Linked DNA regions of Homo sapiens: region 2 is linked to region 1. Evidence: fine-mapped expression QTL. Tissue or cell type: whole blood. Region 1 holds a variant in brackets; the other region holds the start of a gene. All regions are shown on one strand. Distances are from middle to middle.

Region 1 (2,749 bases):
ACAATTATCTGTTACCCGTCTCAGCCCCCCGCCCCATGAGGCAGGCACTGCTCCTTTCCCATTGGCAGATGAGAACACCGAAGCTCAGTGGCAGGGCTGGGATCTGAGCTTCTGTCTGTCATGGCCCCAGGTCACTACTCTATGCTCTTCCTGGAGGCAGGCAGCCTCCTCTGCCTTCTGAGACTCCGTCCGGCTGCCCACCTTTTGGTATTTGCATCTTGTTAGGGGAGACTGCCTGGAGGAGATGCTCCCGGAGGGGCTAGCAAGGAAGGGGGCTGAGGGAAGTGGAGGGAGAGATGGGTCAGGTGAGGAGCCAGGGAAGGGGAAGGTGATGGGGTGGGCTGGAGGCAAGAAGCTTGAGGCGCAGGGGAGGAGAGAGTCCAGGGGTAAGGCGAGGGCAGCCCCGTGGTTCCCAAGTCCAGCTGAGCCCTCATTATCCTGGGGAAAAGACTTCCACCTAGTGTCACCCCTCGCCAAGGCACACACACACACGGAGACGTGCAGAGGCCAGCATGGTGTGCACCCCTCCTGCCCACAGGTACACACATGTGTAGATACACACACAGATGCTGGGACACGCAGAGGGGAGCAGACAAGCACACCTCCACACACAGATGGCCTCTTCTGGGCTGGGTGTGGCTGGCCGTGGGCAGTCACTACGGCCCAACCCAGTGACTCACGGGGCAGGGCTGAGGGGCACAGTCTCCCTGGGTGGCCTGGGAAACACTGCTCAGCTCCAGGATGGAGCTGAATCTCCAAGGGCAAAGGAATCTTGGCACCCAGCTGGGACTCCCCTAGGGTCCAATTTGCTTCACCAGCCTTCCCTTCCCCCACGCCCCATCTTGCAGCCCTAAGCCCAGGGGCAATGGCTGAGGTCCTTGCCAAAGGGGGTGGATTGGGCTGGTGGTGGGTTGGAGCACGATGCTGGCGTCCCCTTTGCACATGTTCCCTGGGCACCTCTGTCCTCTGCGAGTCCCTGCCTGCCCAGAGAGCTCCCTGCTCTGGTTAGGCTTGTGAGGTCCCCGTAGCTGTGGCTGCTGCAGAGGCCTCAGCCTGGCCGGAAAGCCTGTTCACCTGCTGGCACTCAGAGCCTCGCAGTGGTCCTTCCCTTTTCTGCATCCGGAATCTTAGGGAGACCCTGATGAACACTTTGAGTTGTCTCCCCAGGGACA[C/T]ACAGCTCTCTCCTCATCCACCACTTAGCACACAATTCTGGCCATTCCAAAGACTTCAGATGAAGAAGTCCTGGTAGACAGTTTATGAACTGGGATTATGCAGGACGTCTCCCTCGGATTTGCAGAAAGGGGTACCATTGAGAGAGGGAGGAGAGGGGCCGAGGTCACAGAGGCTGTTAAAGGCCTCCAGCCCCAGAAAAGCAGGGATTCAGTCTGCCCAACTGTAGGGCCTTGAATCCCTTCCTTCTAAGCTCCTTCCAGCCAAATGTGTGTTCTGCCAACCTGAGCTGCCCCAGCCCCAAACAAACTCAGCCATGCCCTCCCTGCCTGCCCTTCAAGACTTGACCCTTCGGCTCTTTTCTCCACCCCTGGCCTCTGGAAAGTCCATGCCCCATCCTCCTGCAGCCCTGCCCTTCCCTCCCCATCTCGCTCATTCCCCCTTCTCTTCTTTGAGGTGTGCCCGGCCGGGGCAGGCGCCCTGGAGCCTGGCGCCCCAGGCAGCTGCTACCTGGATGCAGGGCTGCGGCGGCGCCTGCGGGAGGAGTGGGGCGTGAGCTGCTGGACCCTGCTCCAGGCCCCCGGAGAGGCCGTGCTGGTGCCTGCAGGGGCTCCCCACCAGGTGCTTCCCAGCGGGCAGGGGCTCTGCGGGGAGATCAGGATGGCAGAAGCGACCCAATCAAGGCCGCAGGCATCCAACATCCCCTCAATACCCAAGAGCCGGGCAGGGCAGGGAGCCGCACGCTGCTGTGGGGAAGAGATAACGGGGGAGCCAAGAGGCCTTGAAGTCACTGAGCCCAACTGGGACTGGCGCCAGAGTCCACTCCTGGTCTCCTGGGCATGCTGATGTCAGGGGGCTCGCAGGGAGACTTTAGGGTCTCTCCAGCAGTTCTGAGTCCCGGTTTTGGCCACAGGCTTTGAGGTGTCCAGTGGTGCATCCAGGAATCTGCTCTCTGAGAGCCAGGGGTCGGGGGTGGTTGTCATTAGAGGAAGCGAACCTCAGGGACCAGGGGGACAGGGAGAGGATGTGTGATCTTGAGCCTCACTGTCCATGTCCCCCCGACACAGGTGCAGGGCCTGGTGAGCACAGTCAGCGTCACTCAGCACTTCCTCTCCCCTGAGACCTCTGCCCTCTCTGCTCAGCTCTGCCACCAGGGACCCAGCCTTCCCCCTGACTGCCACCTGCTTTATGCCCAGGTGAGTGGGATGTGGGCCAGCAGGCTGGGTGTGCTACCCAAGCCTCCCACCTCCCTGTGCCACAGCTGCAGTGGACATAGCAGATCCCACCCTGTGCCAAGCAGGCAGCCACCCTGTGCAGGGGCAGAGTATTCCTTTTGTTTAGTTTGTTTCATTTTGTTTTTTGAGATGGAGTCTTGTTCTGTCACCTAGGCTGGAGTGCAGTGGCACTATCTCAGCTCCCTGCAACCTCCGCCTCCTGGGTTCAAGTGATTCTCCTGCCTCAGCCTCCCAAGTAGCTGGGACTACAGGCGCCCACCACCATGCCTGGTTAAATTTTTTTGGGATTTTTAGTAGACGTGGGGTTTCACCATGTTGGCCAGACCGGTCTTGAACTCCTGACC
Region 2 (2,624 bases), 28 kb after region 1:
AAGGTGGAGGAAGTCATAGTTTCTGACTTTCTTCCCAACTTTGCCTAAGGCAAACTTCTTTCAACAGGAGCTCCCATGAGGGTTGGGGAGGAGGTGGTGGGGAGGAAGGAGGGTGAAACCCAAGACTTTCTCTCCTGAGAAAATCTGATACTCAACTCATCAATTGGGGGAAGATTTATACTAGGAGGCAGAAGTATTGCTGACTTTACAGACAGCTTCTTGGCAGAGTTACTTTCAACAGCGGGCACCCCCCCCACCCTACCGGGAATACCCCCACCCTTCCTACACAGCGCTACATCTTGCTGAACGAACCCTAGTAGTAGGCTGCCTGCCAGCCTGCAGCCCCAACAAAAAATGGCAAAAACACAAACTGACGGCACGTGAAACATCAATGGACTCTCCTCCCCGCACAGGGCCACCCAGGCCCCACCACGGGCGGCATGTCCCTAACTCAATTTGGCTTGTGAGGGGTCACAGCCACGCTGGAAACATCTGCACCCAATAGAAGGCGATTTCCCCGGCTGGGGGCCCACCAGCCTGCCCCGGGTCTTTACCCTTCGTGGGGACTTGGACCGGCAGGGCCTGCACTTCCCACGTCCCGGGGTGACGGGAAGGGCGTCCTGCACCCCAACAAGGTCCTGGAGTTGTCTGGGAGATCAGACCGAGGGGAAGGGACGGCGATTTTTTCAAGCCCAGGCGAGGCGGTGGGGTGGAGCGGAGGAAGGAGGCAGGCCCACCGGGACTGGGGGGAGGCGGCCTAGGGCCCCGGGGGGCAGGAAACACCCCAAGCGGTGACAGGGAGCGTCCCGGCGGAGGCGAGTTCGGGAATTGGGAGAGACTCCGGGGCCAGGACGCACAGACAGGAAGCGACGCGGGAGCAGGCCGGGGAGGTGGGGCGGTCGGGAGGAGTCTGGGAGCGGGACTGGGAAGAGCGAGGGGAAGCGGGGCGCGGCCGGGGAGGCAGAGGAAGGGGCGCCGCGGCCCGGGGGTCCCTGCCCGAGGGGGCCCGCGCCCGCCCGCCCTCCTGCGGGCCGCGCCCGGCTCCGCGCCCGCCCAGCCCGGCCTAGGCCCGCGACTCCCGGCGGCCCGGCCCGGCCCTGCCGGCCTCACCGCCCCCACGGCTTCCTGCAGCAGCGCCCCGAGCCGGCTCAGCATGATGGCGCCCGGCCCCCGGCTCCCGGGCGAAAGCGGCGGCGGCAGCGCTCTAGGCGGAGGAGGCAGCCCCGTGGCCCCGGCGGCCCCGGCGCGACGAGGGGGGCGGGGCCCGGCCGCTCCGCCCCTTCCCGGCCCGGCTGCGTGGCGCTGGCTAACCCCGGCTGGGGGCGCCCAGTCGGGCTGGGAACCGCCAGCGGTGGGCCCTGAGAGTTGGCTGGGAGGTGTTTTTTTTTTTTTTTTTTTTCTTTCCTTTCTTCCGAGACAGGGTCTCGCTTGGTCGCCCAGGCTGGAGTGTAGTGGCGCGATCTCTGCTCATTGCAGCCTCCAACTCCTGGACTCATGCGATCCTCCAACCCCGGCCTCCAGAGTAGCTGGGTCCACAGGCGCGCGCCACCACGCCTGGCCAATTGTTTTTTTTTTTTGTTTTTTTACTGGGAGGGGAGGTCTCACTGTGCTGCCTAGGATGATCTCCAGCTCCTGGCCTCAAGCGACCCTCCCGCCAGGGCCTCCTGAGTAGCTGGGATTAAGGCGGGAGCTAAGGGAGGTGTTTTCGAAGAGAAATTACAATTCCTCCTGAATTGAAGTCTCAGTCAGCCCCAGGCACATGGGCTGATGAGCTCCTGAAATGTGCTGGTCCCAACCAAGATGTGCCGTGCCAAGCACACCCCGATTTGGAAGATACAGTAAGAAAGGAAAGTGTGAAACTGCAACAACCATGGCTTATATTGATTACATATTGAAATGACTATTAGGTGTGTTGGGTTAAATAACGTATATTGTTAAAATTAACTTCACGTGTTGCTTTTTACTTTTTTGACAGGGCTATCAGAAAATGTTTATGGGCTGTGGGCGGTGGCTCACACCTGTAATCCCAGCACTTTGGGAGGCCAAGGCGGTTTGATCACTTGAGGCCAGGAGTTTGAGACCAGCCTGGCCAACATGGTGAAAACCCGTCTCTACTAAAAATACAAAAAAATTAGCCAAGCGTGGTGGTATGTGGAGGCTAAGGTGGGAGAATCACTTGAACCCGAGAGGCAGAGGTTGCAGTGAGCCAAGATCGTGCCAGTGCACTCCAGCCCGGGCAACAGAGTGAGACCGTCTCAAAAAAAAAAAAAAAAAAAAAAAAGTCTGCAGCTGAGTGTGGTGGCTCAAGCCTGAAATCCTAGCACTTTAGGAGGCCAAGGCTGTTGACCAGCCTGGGCAACATATGAAGATCCTGTCTTGACAAAAAATAAAAATACAAAATAACCAGGTGTGGTGGTATGTGCCTGTAGTCCAAGCTGCTCGGGAGACTGAGGTGGGAGGAGGATCACTTGAACCCAGGAGTTCGAGGCTGCAATGAGCTATGATCGTGCCCCTGCAGTCCAGACTGGGTGACAGCAAAATAGTGTCTCTCTAAGAAACAAAAACCAGTGTCTCTGCTTATCACTGACATCATATTGTGTCCGGAATTGGTAGGTTCATTGGTC

What was found. PIP is the estimated chance that this variant, and not a neighbour inherited with it, causes the effect.
Region 2: FHIP2B starts here. The variant in region 1 is fine-mapped to the expression of FHIP2B in whole blood (TOPMed, PIP 0.98).

What each region holds. Positions count from the first base shown.
Region 1 is chr8:22,115,917-22,118,665 of GRCh38, reverse strand. It overlaps HR (HR lysine demethylase and nuclear receptor corepressor), which reads left to right. Exons shown (of 19, transcript NM_005144.5): 17 at 1,627-1,791; 18 at 2,238-2,366. Among named protein-coding and RNA genes, the nearest start is that of NUDT18, 7.9 kb to the right of the region's middle. The variant C/T (reference allele first, on the strand shown) is at 1,173.
Region 2 is chr8:22,087,785-22,090,408 of GRCh38, reverse strand. FHIP2B (FHF complex subunit HOOK interacting protein 2B) reads right to left here and starts at 1,259. Exons shown (of 17, transcript NM_022749.7): 1 at 1,111-1,259. The coding sequence starts at 1,155. RefSeq lists an enhancer at 380-519 and silencers at 740-839, 1,030-1,089, 1,150-1,369.